Homo sapiens: one gene and its partners. The protein of the gene in region 1 purifies or fractionates together with the protein of each later gene. This does not show direct contact. Each region holds a gene or a part of one and is shown on either strand. Other genes may lie near its edges.

Region 1 (3,500 bases):
TCAGCTGCTGGAGAAGCAGAGAGGCTGCCCAGTGAGGCCTCTTGTGAGCAGACTTCCACCCTGGGAGGGTCCCCTGCCGGGTCTCTGGTCAGCCGCCTCTGACCCTCCTTCATCCCAATCCCCAGTCCCCAGTTGCCCATCTCTCATCTCCAGCAGCACTTCTGCTTCACACCCCCATTTGCCCACCCTCAGCCCTGCCGGGGGCTCATCCTCCTCCATCTCTTTCCTCGCCTCCAATCTGACTCCTGGGAAAAGGCCTGAGAGCCCCACCCAAACCACTTTTCAAGCCAGCCTGATCCCTATTGACAGCCCTGACCGAGAAAGCCCCTGATTATGTGCGCAGGAGGAGGTGGGACCTTCCTGTGAGCTCTCCAGGATCAGGAACTCACCAGTGAGCACCCACTGTACGCAGGGACCTGGGCTGGTGTTTGCATCCCTTCTCTCGTGACCCTGCAAATCAGGCACTATTGTCCCCATTTTACAGAGGAATACACCGGGCTCAGATCCAGAAGGTGGCCTTCCCAGACATGATGGTGGGTCAAGCTTTTACAGAAGACGGGGGGTGTTGGGAGGTCCTGACTACAGAATCCATGCCCTTTCTACTGCATGAGCTGTCCCTGTGAGCACAGGCCTTACAATGACTTAATGGCATTAATAGTGACAATAATAATAAGACAGCTATTGTGAATTGAGTGCCTATTGTTTTCCAGGTATAAGTGCTGGGTGCTTTTCATTCCTATGTCATTCACAAGCCTGAGAAGCAGGTACTAGGTACCTGTGGGTACTGATGAAGAGGCTGAGCCACACGGAGGTTAAGTAATTGGCCCCAGAACACATAGCTCCTAAGTGGCAGAGCTGGAAACTGATGTCTTTTTGACTGTCCCCAAGATACCTGGCTCATCCTCTCTGGTCCTTTTGCCCCAGCACAGGTTCCTCTAGGGATCCAGGAATGCACATGGGCAGCAGCAATTCTCCCCTAAGCTAGACCTGACCTAGCTCCAAAAGGCCCCTGAACTAAGGCAGGCTGTTTCCTGGTTCAGCCAGCTCCCCGCACACACAGCAGGGCCCCATCCTGCTGATCATGGTCCTGATCACAAATGGCTCGTCCTGACTCTCTACAGCCCACTTTCTGCCTCATGCTCTGCAGGGGCCACCTAGCCTCACTTCTTGCTGCTCACACTTTGGATATGATGTCAGAGCAGCTTATCTGGCTCTGACCTTGACTGCCTCCTTGACCACAATCCCAGCCTATGCTGGGCTATGCTGTCTTACAGTGGCTCACAGTAACAGCTCCCGTGTATGGTGCCTTTCCTTCAGCAGCCCAGGCCTCAGAGCACGGCACGCAGGGAGGCATCAAGGAGCTGTGCTCAGGGCCAAGGGTAGCATCTTGGGTCCAGCAGACCTGAGTTTGAGTCTCTTTCTTGAAATGAATTAAGCTATGCTTGAGCAAGCCACTTACCCTCTGAGCCTCAGGTTCTTTGTCTATAAAAAGAGATAACAATAGTACCTACTTTATAAGGTTATTACGCCATTAATTGCAAAGCTTTCTCCTGAGCATCGTGCTTTTCTCTTTCTTCCCCACCACCTTCCTGATGCATCAGCCCATACAGAAAGGCATGGCAGTGAGTTTCCTACCCTTTCCTTCCAGAACCCAGCTCCCTTGGGGCTCGGCTACATTCCAAGAAAGGAAAAAGATGGTCAAGAACACTGAACTAGGCCAGGCGCAGTGGCTTATGCCTGTAATCCCAGCATTTTGGGAGGCTGAGGCAGGTGGATCACCTGAGGTCAGGAGTTTGAGACCAGCCTAGTCCAACATGGTGAAACCTCGTCTCTACTAAAAATACAAAAATTAGCCAGGCATGGTGGTGGGTGCCTGTAGTCCCAGCTACTCCGGAGGCTGAGACAGGAGAATCGCATGAACCTGGGAGGCAGAGGTTGCAGTGAGCCGAGATCGCACCACTGTACTCCAGCCTGGGAGACAGAGTAAGAAAAAAAGGAACACTGAACTAGAATACTGGGAGCAAGAACATTATGTGGAATTGCCAAAAGTTGATGAGACGGATCAGCCAAGGTCATGCCGAGGACTAAACAGAACCACCAGGAGGTTGAGTAACTGGCTCTGTTCAACCAACAAGTTGCCTTTCTTCCCTCTCTGGGCTTCCTCAGTAAAATAAGGATAATTAAATCCAAGGACTCCAAGTGGCACAGCCTATGCATGGAGACACAGTCCAGGGAAACACAAGTCACACTCAACACTTTGAGTAATAATCAAGACATCTGCTATAGGTTTTCTTAACAGGGCCTCCTCAGGGTCTTGGTACAGAAAGCATGCCAAAATTCTCCCAGCCCTGTTCACTCATTAATTATTTGTTGAGGAAACATTAACATATACTATGTAGCAACTATTCTGCTAGCTATTAGAGATAAAACCTCAAGGCTGGGCGCGGTGGCTCACGCCTGTAATCCCAGCACTTTGGGAGGCCTAGGCGGGAGGATCATGAGGTCAGGAGGTCAAAACCATGCTAGCTAACATGGTGAAATCTTGTCTCTACTAAAAAAAAAAAAAATTAGCCAGGCATGGTGGCGCATGCCTATAATCCCAGCTACTCAGGAGGCTGATGCAGGAGAATCACTTGAACCTGGGAGGTAGAGGTTACAGTGAGCTGAGATTGCACCACTGTACTCCAGCCTGAGTAACAGAGCAAGACTCTGTCTCAAAAAAAAAAAAAAAAAAAAAAAAAAAAAACTCAAATGAGACATTCTCAGTCCTCAGCAAGATTACAGAATACAGGACAGCAAACAAGTGAATAAGCAGTTAGAATGCCATGTAATAGGTGCCCTATTGGAGGTAAGAACAAGAAAGGGAAATGAGGAGCACCTTACCTACCCTGGGCGGCTAGACACTCTTATCCATTTATCGAACTGACAAACACTTATTGACCACCTGTTTGTGCCAGACGACCATAAAAGAAGTTCCTGGCTCTCCAAAAAGACGATATTGACATGAGTTTCAAAGGACTGCCAACACTACTAGAATAAGGGGATCATAACCAGCACCAAAGCAAAGAGAAATGCAATAGCATGGAGCTTCTGTAGTGTAACCTGATGGAATCCAAGGACTTGCATGGCTCAGACTACCATGGAGACACAGTCAAGGGAAACACAAGTCACACTCTTGACACCCTGAGTAATAATCAAGACATCTAGCCTAAGTTTTCTTAAAAGGGCCTTCTTAGGGTCTTTGCACAGAAAGCATGCCAAAATTCTCTCTAAATACCTTCCTCTCTCCCAGAAATTCCAGGATGCCTTTAAAAATCTCTCCCATTTGCTCCACATCTGGTTCCCTCATTGCCATGCTTGTCTAGTCCCAATCCTCTTCCAATCACCCCTTATAAAGCCAGCAGTTCCTTCAAATATTCAGGAATCGTGCCGTATATTAGTTTCCTAGGGCTACCATAACAAAGCACAACAAATTGGGTGGCTCAGAACAACAGATTTTA
Region 2 (4,083 bases), on another chromosome or scaffold:
TAGCTGGGACTACAGCTGCCCACCACCACCCCTGGCTAATTTGTTGTTTTTCAGTACAGACGGGGTTTCACCGTGTTAGCCAGGATGGTCTCGATCTCCTGACCTCGTGATCCACCCGCCTCGGCCTCCCAAAGTGCTGGGATTACAGGTGTGAGCCACCGCACCCGGCCAAGTTTTCATTTTTTAAGGTAAGAGAAATTAAAACACGTTTATATGTTGATGTGAGCAAACGTTTAAAAGGATTAAAAAACTGATGATGCAAGAAAGAGAATTACTAGAACAATGCCTTCCAGTAGGCAAGAGGAGATGGAAACCAGGACACAGTAGACAGGAAGACCTAAGAATGGAGCACTGACAGTCCAATTATCATAAAAGAATATGAGACCCTGAGTAAACATGCAAATAAATAGGCAGCTAGTGTGAAAATTGTCTTCCGACGGCTTCCATTTTCAGTGAAACAAGAAGCAACGTTACCAGCTGAGAGAGGATAAGAGAAGAAACGTTGAAGATTTGAGTTTTAATAGTTGCCTAAGGCGAGAGGGTGAAGGGGCTATGGAAATGTAGAATGACCGCCTGGCAGCACTAAGGGCTCGACTGAGGTTCACATCACAAACTTATCAAGTGGGAACAGTCGGCCGGGCCTGGCGGCTCACGCCTGTAATCCTAGCACTTTGGAAGGCCGAGGCGGGTGGATAACCTGAGGTCAGGAGCTCAAGACCAGCCTGGTTAATATGGTGAAACCCCATCTCTACTAAAAATACAAAAATTAGCCGGGCATGGTGGCGGGCGCCTGTAATCCCAGCTACTCTGGAGGGTGAGGCAGAAGAATCGCTTGAAGCCGGGAGACGGAGGTTGCAGTGAGCCGAGATCACACCATTGTACTCCAGCCTGGGCAACAAGAGTGAAACTCCGTCTCATAAATGAATGAATGAATGAATGAATGAATGAATAAATAAATAAATAAATAAATAAATAAATAAATAGTGGGAACAGTCAACATGGTTGTGTTTCTCCAGCCTCATCCGGCCTGGGCGCAGGTTCAAATGTCAGAAGCATGTGAACCTGAACAACTCCATCTTCAATAGGAGCTGGGTAAAATGAGGCTGAAACCTACTGGGCTGCATTCCCAGACAGGGCATTCTAAATCACAGGATGAGATGTGAGGTCGGCACAAAATACAGGTCATAAAGACCTTGCTGAAAAAACAGGTTGCAATAAAGGAGCCAACCAAAACCCACCAAGACCAAGATGGCCACGAGAGTGACCACTGGTCGTCCTCACTACTAGACTCCCAACAGCGCCATGCCAGTTTACAAATGCCATGGCAACATCAGGAAGTTACTCTCTATGATCTAAAAGGGGAGGAATGAATAATCCACCCCTTATTAACCATATCACTAAGAAATACCCATAAAAATGGGCCACCAGCAGCCCTCCAGGCTGCTCTATGGAGTAGCCATTCCTTTACTTTCTTAATAAACTTGCTTTCACTTTGCACTGTGGACTCACCCTGAATTCCTTCTTGCCTGATCCAAGACTTTTTTTGTTTTGTTTGAGACGGAGTCTCCCTCTGTAGCCAGGCTGGATGGAGTGCAGTGGCCCGCGGCTCACTGCAACCTCGGCCTCCCCAGTTCAAGCGATTCTCCTGCCTCAGCCTCCCGAGTAGCTGGGACTACAGGCGTGCATCATCACGCCCAACTAATTTTTGTATTTTTAGTAGAGACAGGGTTTCACCAAGTTGGCCAGGATGGTCTCGATCTCTTGACCTCATGATCCACCCACCTCGTCCTCCCAAAGTGCTGGGATTACAGGCCTGAGTCACCACGCCCGGCCAAGGACCCTCTTTTCGGGTCTGGATCGGGACACCTTTCCTGTAATACAGCTGAATTTAACCATTATTAGATTTTCTCCACTCAAGGCATCTCCTCATAAGCAGTCTTTCCTGACCATAAATCTTAGTTGTCCTATCCTCGGACACTTGTTATTTCATCACCCTGCCTTTGCAATTATCTGAAAATATCTTTGGTTATACAATTTATCGTGTCTCCCCACCCAACCCCCATCTCCTAGAACCCACTTCCCTAACCCGAAAATACGGGGCAAGAAACCTGTCTGTACTGGTCACAACCCTATCCCTGGGCCTACAACCGTGTCTGAGTCATAGTAATCCCTCAACAAATTTTGTGTGAACCGAAAGAAAAAAACACTTAAGACAATCTAAGTGACCATAAACAGTAGTTTTTTCTAAAAATATTATTAATCTTACGAGTCTCTGGTTGCCAACATGTGGACTACAATTAACTCTAAGAGCACAAAGGAGAGAATCACCAACAACATTAGTTTGGAAACAGCAATTTGAAAGCGAGGCTCTGGCGGTGTCGCCGATTCCTACAAGATAGCATCGCACCCCTGGGTGTCAGGAAGCTAAGAGGCCCGCAGGCCGCTCCTCCTCAACTCCACCCCGGCAATAAGGGTTGAGGAAAGAGAGACCCCCACTCGCGCTGGTTAACAATGGGCGTCCCCACAGCCGCAAGAAGTACTTGCTCTGCGCCGCACGGGTCACGCCTCCCCCAGCGGCCTCAGAACCCCCAGCAGCCCTCCTCAGACAACTACCCACAGCCCTCCACTCCCGGCCGCCCCGCTCCTCCTCGAGTTCGAGTAGCGGGCGCGGGGGACGCGGGCTCCAGTCCCACGGAACCTGCAGAGCCAGTCCCAGGAGCCGCCACCCTCCCAGCGCGCCCTCAGCCCCTCACCTGCTGCAACATGGCGGCCCTACGCCAGCCCTGCTTCCAGGAGCCACGTCAGCGCAGCAGCGTACGGGTCCGGGTCGGAACTGACGCGACCCGTCACCAAGGGCCAGCAGGGACCACTGTAAGAGCCTCAGTCCGGCCTCACCTCCGCTTTGAGGGAGCAAATCCAGGGGCGGGGCGAGCGGGGGCGGGGCGAGCGGGGGCGGGGCGAGCGGGGGCGGGGCGAGCGGGGGCGGGGCGAGCGGGGGCGGGGCGAGCGGGGGCGGGGCGAGCGGGGGCGGGGCGAGCAGCCCGGACACGGCGGAGGCGGAGCCTGGAGCAGGAGCGAAAGGGAAAGGCATTGGGGCCACAGTGGGCTCCAAGTGGAAAGCTTCATGGTCTGTTTTACGGAAGTATTTGCTGTCCACCCAATGCAAATTCTAAAGTCGTTCCCCCAGCGTCGCTGCCCCGAATGCAGGGGGGCGGGGTTTTATTGTATAATATAATTTTCTTTAAATATTTTACAAAGACTTACTCCTGTACAGTATTACTTTTGTACTTTAAATTGTAGAAGCAACTTTTTAAAATATGTTCTTGCAGAGAAGTAAAACGTTAAGAAAAACAAGGCAGGAGGACTCTAGAGTAACTAATGGACGGTATTATTATGGGAGGTATAAACTTAGACTCCAGGAGTTGAGACCTTGCGCCCTGGAGCTTAGGCGCCTGGGAACTCTATTGCCAATCATATCACCAACCTTTATGTACTTCTTTCGTCAGTTGTAAAGTGGGGGTGATAATGGTTTCCTTACAGTGTAAGTATCTAGTAAATGGGAGACGTTATACTTATTACAGTTTTAAGTCCAGCCGCTCATGCTGTGATCTTGCCTGAACAAAGGATGTGAAATTAAGGGGCGTTAAGTCATCTTTGAAGCGGTGATGATGACAATATCCTATCTGTCTGGCCGAGTCAGACTGCTGTTGGCATAGTGGTATTTGCACGTTTCCTTAATTGAAGGGATTCTATTAAAATCACAAATTTTATGTGGCTGTTTGCCAGTGCCATTTAAAACCTAATATTCTAATAATGAAAGGGGAAAAACACACACACGCGTTTCTCAAAGGCGAGACATTTCGGCAGCACAATTGCATTCGTGCCCTTGGAGATGAAAAGCTAACAAATTTGGGGCCTGTACGTCCAGCCTGCCCATGGCAGGTTTTCAGTGGTCCACTCAGTGCTGTGGAGTTTTGTGTTGTTTTTCGTAGTTTTTGGTTTTTTAAGGCATTGTGTTTGAATTCATTATCGTCTTTTAATTTTTAATAGCTAATTTTTAAAGCTAATTTTGTATTTTTAGTA
Region 3 (3,500 bases), on another chromosome or scaffold:
ATGGGGAAAACCCTCTCTACTAAAAATACAAAAATTAGGTGTGCCTGGTGGCACGCACCTGTAATCCCAGCTACTTGGGAGGCTGACGCACAAGAATCGCGTGAATCTGGGAGGCTGATATTGCAGTGAGCCATGATGGCACCACAAAAAAAAAGAAAACTAAAATAGCGTACCAGTCGCAAAAAATACATATAAATCTATATGTTTTTCATATATTATCGTTAAAAATTTATTACAGCTACTTGATTTTATACAGTTTGTTCCTTCTAAGCAAGGGTGGCTTTTTTTTTTTTTTTTTTTTGAGACGGAGTCTTGCTTTGTCACCCAGACCAGTGTGCAGTGGCACGATCTTGGCTCACTGCAACCTCTGCCCCCTGGGTTCAAGCGATTCTCCTGCCTCAGCCTTCTGAATAGCTGGGATTACAGGTGCCCGCTACCACACCCAGTTAATTTTTGTATTTGTATTTTTAGTAGAGACAGGATTTCACCATGTTGGCCAGGCTGATCTCGAACTCCTGACCTCAGGCGATCCACCCACGTTGGCCTCCCAAAGTGCCAGGATTACAGGCATGAGCCACCACATCTGGCCAAGGGTGGCATTTTAATCTTATTTTCTACATCATGCTGGTGAGCTTCACATACAAAATAGCTGTTCAATGTGTTACTTTGTTAAAAGCCTTCTAGGTGAACACTTGAACATGTTCTAAGTGAATAGAAAATACATCTTTCCTGTGTTCTGCAAATAAGACAATTTGATTCATTTGGATTGTTAATAGAATTAATGCTCATGTCACAAGCTGGTAGAATCATAACTCTCGTGTGAGTTATATAAACCTATAGCTGTTCCTGTGTGGTTTTTATTGTCTCTCATCTCCTAATATATCAGTAAGTGTTTTGTGTACCAATGGTTCAGAAAACATCGGAATTACAGATAGAGGAACTGAACAAAACTTGCAAGCTTACTAATCCATGAGTCTACCTAGAATGAGACTTCACTGATAGTTATATTGTATATGGGTTCACACTTTTTCAGATGTGTCACTATGCAGAAAAGCTTAAGAACTGTTAATAGTTCATATAGAACCCCAAATGGTAGTTCAAGATAAATTGCAGCCACAAAACTTCAGAGATAATTCATAAATAATTAACCTTGCTTGATGAGAGGAATGAGCAGGAGCATTGTTGTGATAGAGAAGGACCCTCTAGTGAAGCTTTCCCAGGCATTTTTCTGCTAAGCAGATGTTATCATTTCTGGCTCTCTAGAAAGTCAACAAGCAAATGCCTTCTAAGCTCTTCTATTATATGCAGCATAGGTTAAGTAGGTTTAATCAATTCTGACAGCTACTGTAAACTCTGAAAGAATAAAATAAGAGACCTACATAATACAGTAAGGATTGCGGGGATTAAATTTAATATAAGCCCTAAATAAGACATTACCTTGGAAAATCACTTTATTTGAAAAGATTGACTTTTTTTTAACAATTCAAAACATTAATACATACTTGCTAAAATTATAGATTTGAACATGTGATATCTAGCCAATAGTGCAGTTTATATTTTATCTGTAAAATGACCTGATGCAAATTACAAATTTTACTCACTTAAAAAATTTAACATTGTAAAAATGTGCTTTCACATTCAAGATAAAAAGGCGAGGGTAATCTGCTTTTGGTTAAAGGATTTCCATATGATTCCATGTTAAAATTAGTTAATATTTTAAAATAAAAATTTCAGAAATTACAGTAAGACATTAAAACATGCATGGTATTCTAAATACGTGCAACTAATTCAGGCTAATTAGAAACAGGTACAGGACTCAGTGTTCACCTACATTTCAAGTATAAGATAGACCTGTGGGGAAAAAGTTAATCTGTACCTTACAGGCAAAGTAATTACATTTTACTTTGCTAATAGAAGCTGTTAACTGGAGTTGTATGTATATTAACAGACAGTAGCTGTAGTTGTATAGTTTAGAAGTGGAAAGTTGCATTTTGAAATGTAATAATTCTATTCTGGGTCACTGTTAGGCACAACATCCCATTGAGCTGTGATGATACAGTATTTAAAATATTTTAACTTTATTCTTATTACTCAGCAATCAGTGGGAACTTGGCAAATATGAGAAGTGCTCGATGAAGACAAAGTACAGGTGTACCTCATTTTATTACACTTTGATTTATTGCACTTCATAGATAATGCACTTTTTTTTCCTTAACAAATTGAAGGTTTTTAGCAACCCTACATCAAGCGAGTCTATCAGCTGAACGTGTTTCCAATAGCATGTGCTCATTTCATGTCTCTTTCTCACATTTTGGTATCCAAACTTTTTCATTATTATTCTGTCTGTTACAGTGATCTACAGTCAGTGATCTTTGATGTTACTATTGTAATCATTTTGGAGTGTGCCCATAGGATGGCATACTTAATTTTTGTGTCTATTCTGACTGCTCCCTCTTCCTTCTCCCTTTTCTCTCCCACTTCTTGGGCCTCCCTACTCCCTGAGATACAACATTACTGAAATTAAGCCAATTAATAACTACAGTGACCTCTTAAGTGTTGAAGTGGAAGAGATGCACATCTCTCATTTTAAATCAGAAGCTAGAAATGATTAAGCTTAGTGAGGGAGGCATATCAAAACCCAAGACAGGCTAAAAGGTAGACCTCTTTTGCTAGTTAAATTATAAATGCAAAGGAAAAGTTCTTCATGGAAAGTAAACGTGCTACTCCAGTGAACACACTAATGATAACACAAAACAGCCATACTGCTAACATAGAGAATGTCTTAGTGGTCTGGGTAGATCAAATTATCTACAACATCCCCTTAGCGAAAGCCTAACCAGAGAAAGACCCTAATTCTTTTCAATTTTATGGAGGCTTAGAGAGATGAAGAAGCTGCAGAAAAAAGTTTGAAGCTAGAAAAGGTTGGTTCATGAGGTTTAAAGAAAACAGCCATCTCCATAACATCAAAATACAAGATGAAGCAGCAAGTCCCGACATAGAAGCTGCAGCAAGTTTTCCAGAAGATCTAGCTAAGATCATTGATGAAGGTGGCTATACTAAACAACAAATTCTCAATGTTAATGAGACAGCCTTCCATTGGAAGAAGATGCTATCTGGGACTTTTTTTTCATGCCTGCTAACACCATATCCATTCTGCAGCCCGTAAATCAAGGAGTAATTTCAACTTCAAGTCATATTATCTAAGAAATACATTTCATAAGGCTCTACCTGCCATAGGTAGTGATTCCTCTGATGGATCCAGGCAAAGTAAATTGGAAACCTTCTGGAAAGGAGTCACCATTCTAGTGTCATTAAGAACATCTGTGATTCATGGAAGGAGGTCAAAATATCAGTGTTACAGGAGTTGGGAAGAAGTTCATTCCAACCTTCATGGATGACTTTGAGGTGTTCAAGGCTTCAATGGAGGATGTAACTGTAGATGTGATAGAAATAGCAAGAGAACTGGAATTAGAAGTGGAGCCTGATTATGTGACTGAATT
Region 4 (3,500 bases), on another chromosome or scaffold:
CCTCCCAAAGTGGTGGGATTACAGGTGTGAGCCACTGCGCCCGTCCTGTTATAACCCACTTTCTCTGTAAAGTAATGCTTCCTGTATTTGTTAGCTGTTAGAGTTCAAAACAGTATAAATCATTATAAATTAATCTGTTCATGCTTAGCACTGAAAAGTATGTATACAGAAATACCATTAAAGTAGCATTGACTGTATGTGCCACAGAACAGTGTATTTCAGATATATATTTTACATTGTAGTAATATTAACATGGAGATCCAATGGATACATTACATATAAGTAACAAATATATTATTTTTAAATGTTTTATGAAATAATACCATTAGAATGTAATACATTCTAATATTTTATTGTTTCACATAATAAATATTGTTTTGACACTCCCCCAGTTGATTTCATATACCAGTCAGTTGCCAAGTACAGTTTGAAAAATGCTTGCCTAAAATGAACATGAGTTGGGAGATGTAATTCAGTTGTTTAAGGCAAACCAAATATCAAATAAGACCCTCTTTATTATATAGTCTACAGTACTGTGTGTATTATGCATTGGTCTTCAGATTGTATTTATATAACCATACATACTGTACTTTTAATAGGTTATTTAAAGCACTTTTAAGAGTAATTTTGCTTATGTGTAATTTATGTTGACTTTGGAATTAACTTTTGTTTATACTGCAATTCCACCATATTTCTTTCATGGCTCTGTTATTTCTTGACAAAACATTAACAGAAAAAAATAATGAAATATCTTTTTTACAGGTTAATTACCATGCTCAGCATTACCATCTCACTCCATTTACAGTCATCAATATTATGTACAGTTTCAACAAAACTCAGGTGAGAATTTTGTCTGGATTCTATTAAAGGTTTATATAAGTGTCATTTGGGTTTAGTAATCATTAAAGCAAGAATAATTACTTTCAGTTTGGTCAATAAAACATCTTAACTGTTGTAGTAAAACTAAAGTAGCACAACGATATGTTTTTGAATCTTTCAAAATGTAATTTAGCAAAAGTACAATTTAATTTAGCAAAACCACAAAGAGCTGTGCTAAGATGATGTCTCTGCTATCAAGAGGCTCATATTTATTCATGGAGACAAAATCTTTGAAGATTGTGCTGCAGTAAGATAAAGGCAATATTAGAAGTACAGAATGCTGTCAGAATACAAAAGAGAAGTACCTTATCAAAACTGGGCTTGGGCACAGTGTATGGCTGGGAAAAACTTTGGGAAAAGAAAGGCCCGAATTGTGTGCTTCTTGTTGAGAAGTCTGACTCTTCATGATGAGGATAGAGAAAAGGTTTTTAAAGTAGACGTGTGAAGGCAGAAGACAAAGAGAGATCATAATGTTTGGGAATGGATTTAATGGAGTACAATGGGAGCTTGAAGTGGGGGTTGAAGAGTAAGAGAAAGATGAAAAAGTAGCCAGAGAAGTAAGCAGGATCCAGATTCTAAAGCACCTTCTAAGAACTGCACACTACTAGATCTTAAAAGCTACAAGAGTACTGTTGAAGGTGTTTTAGCCATGACCAAAATATCTTGAAGACCTTTGGATTGTTTGGCAATATCTATTAAAATTTAAAATGTACATGTTCTTTCACTTCCAGGAACTTATCCCACATAGATGTGCACATATATATGCAAAAATATATATACAAGGATGTCCTATGACATTGCATATAATAGACTGGAAATGATTAAATGTCCATCACTAGGGTACCAGTGAAATAATTATGGTATATTATGGTGAAACACCTTGTAACCTTTAAAAATAAGAGGGTAGCTCTGTGTATACTAATGTGGAATGATCTCCAGGATATTTTTTATGTTTCAAGATAATACTACCTGTTAAAAATAAGCAAAACAAAAATATTTCTATAACATACACACACAGATATACTTGTATATGCATGGATTATCCCGATAAATTTTAAAACTGCTGCTGAGGACTGGGATGAAAAGGAGACAGACTTTTCAGCTGATACCCTATTGCTTCTTTTTAATTCTATCATGTATATCTATTAATAATATAGATAATATAGATAAATAATAGGAGTATTACTGATGGTATCATGCAAAGGGGCAAAACCAGAGACAGTGAAACTTGTAGTCAAATTGATATAAAGTAATAGTGTTAAGTATGGAGAAGAGCATGGATTTGTAAGATACTAAGGGAGTAGAATTTGTAGAACCTGGGGACTGATTAGATAGGAAGAGTGAGATAAAAATGTTTTCTAGATATATTGTTTGGACACTAGGATGATGAAGCTGCTATCTAGGGAAATAGGAAATACAGCAGAGAAGGAAAGAATTGGTGTGGTATGAGTGAGTATGATTGGGTTAAGTTGTGGATATGTAAGTTTCAAGTTACCTTGTGTCATCCACAGGACAGGACTAGTAGGGAGTTGAATATATAGATATTAGGGATATTTAATAAATTAGTTAATCATTAGGGGTTTTAATTAATAGGAATGTTCTTCTTGGCCTAAGTATAACTTTAAAATGATATAAAATTAATTGTAGTTCTCTACTAATATTTCTATTAGAATAATGTTTTATTGGAAAATGTCTACACAATATCAAGTTTTATTAAGATCTTTTGTGTTTCAGATGTAGGTATTAACAGAAATAACATGAATTTTGTTCAATTTAGGGACCTAGAGCCCTGTGGAAAGGAATGGGAAGTACATTTATTGTCCAGGGAGTCACACTTGGAGCAGAAGGCATAATTAGTGAATTTACACCTTTGCCAAGGTACCATTTTTAGCATTTCTTCAGTATTAGTTTCATGTGGTGATGTGTTTTTAGATGCAGGCGGTACATGTGCAGGCTTGTTACATGGGTATATTGTGTGATGCTAAAGTTTGGACTTCTAATGATCCTCTCATCCAACAATTCTCAATTGTGTAAACATCATACCCAATAGGTAGCTTTCAACCCTTGTCCCCATCCCTCCCCTATTATATTGTTTTAATAATAAATAAAAAATACCTTGAATCTGAAAACTTGTCTGAAGTAACTAAAAGAAAAAACAAAGAATAAAATTAATTATATATTATTAAATTAGTATGTGATAAAGAAAATGTGTCTTGGCTTAGTATCTATTGAGATGTATCTTTCAGCTTCTACTGCTATGTGCCAGCAACTGCCAGCTGAGGAACAAATGTGGGTATGTGAGCAATTCCCGCTCTTTAAGTATTCATTTAATGAAGGAGACACATGTAAGCAAGAAGAGGTAACATGTCCAATGTCACGGGGTTGGACAGTCTAGGTAATAAAAGAAGTGTCTTATGTTTGGAATATTGGGTATGTATGAAATTGAATATCAGGAAAAGAAGCTGAGGTGCTACATTAAAATACGATTGTGCCTTTTTAAGTTTATTCTCTATGGGTTTGGAATGTGTTTCTTTTTTTAATATATAGATGTTCTGATCAAGATATATTCAAATGGCAGTATAAAATAAATGGAGTTGTATAGACAGATTTATGGAGATCTA

What was found.
Region 2: the proteins of SLC22A8 (region 1) and TVP23C purify together in Homo sapiens (affinity purification with mass spectrometry, with the first as the bait; one large-scale study listed by BioGRID). This does not show direct contact.
Region 3: the proteins of SLC22A8 (region 1) and DNAJC10 purify together in Homo sapiens (affinity purification with mass spectrometry; one large-scale study listed by BioGRID and IntAct). This does not show direct contact.
Region 4: the proteins of SLC22A8 (region 1) and SLC25A46 purify together in Homo sapiens (affinity purification with mass spectrometry; one large-scale study listed by BioGRID and IntAct). This does not show direct contact.

The regions. Positions count from the first base shown.
Region 1 is NC_000011.10:63,005,842-63,009,341, reverse strand, and holds part of SLC22A8 (organic anion transporter 3), read left to right. Parts: intron 1-3,500. UniProt on the Homo sapiens protein: Functions as an organic anion/dicarboxylate exchanger that couples organic anion uptake indirectly to the sodium gradient.
Region 2 is NC_000017.11:15,560,684-15,564,766, forward strand, and holds the start of TVP23C (Golgi apparatus membrane protein TVP23 homolog C), read right to left. Parts: upstream 2,801-4,083; 5' UTR 2,766-2,800; coding exon 2,754-2,765; intron 1-2,753. Other genes in the region: TVP23C-CDRT4 (uncharacterized protein LOC100533496), read right to left, coding at 2,754-2,765.
Region 3 is NC_000002.12:182,722,757-182,726,256, forward strand, and holds part of DNAJC10 (dnaJ homolog subfamily C member 10 isoform 1 precursor), read left to right. Parts: intron 1-3,500. UniProt on the Homo sapiens protein: Endoplasmic reticulum disulfide reductase involved both in the correct folding of proteins and degradation of misfolded proteins.
Region 4 is NC_000005.10:110,745,507-110,749,006, forward strand, and holds part of SLC25A46 (mitochondrial outer membrane protein SLC25A46), read left to right. Parts: intron 1-762; coding exon 763-840; intron 841-2,656; coding exon 2,657-2,757; intron 2,758-3,500. UniProt on the Homo sapiens protein: Transmembrane protein of the mitochondrial outer membrane that controls mitochondrial organization.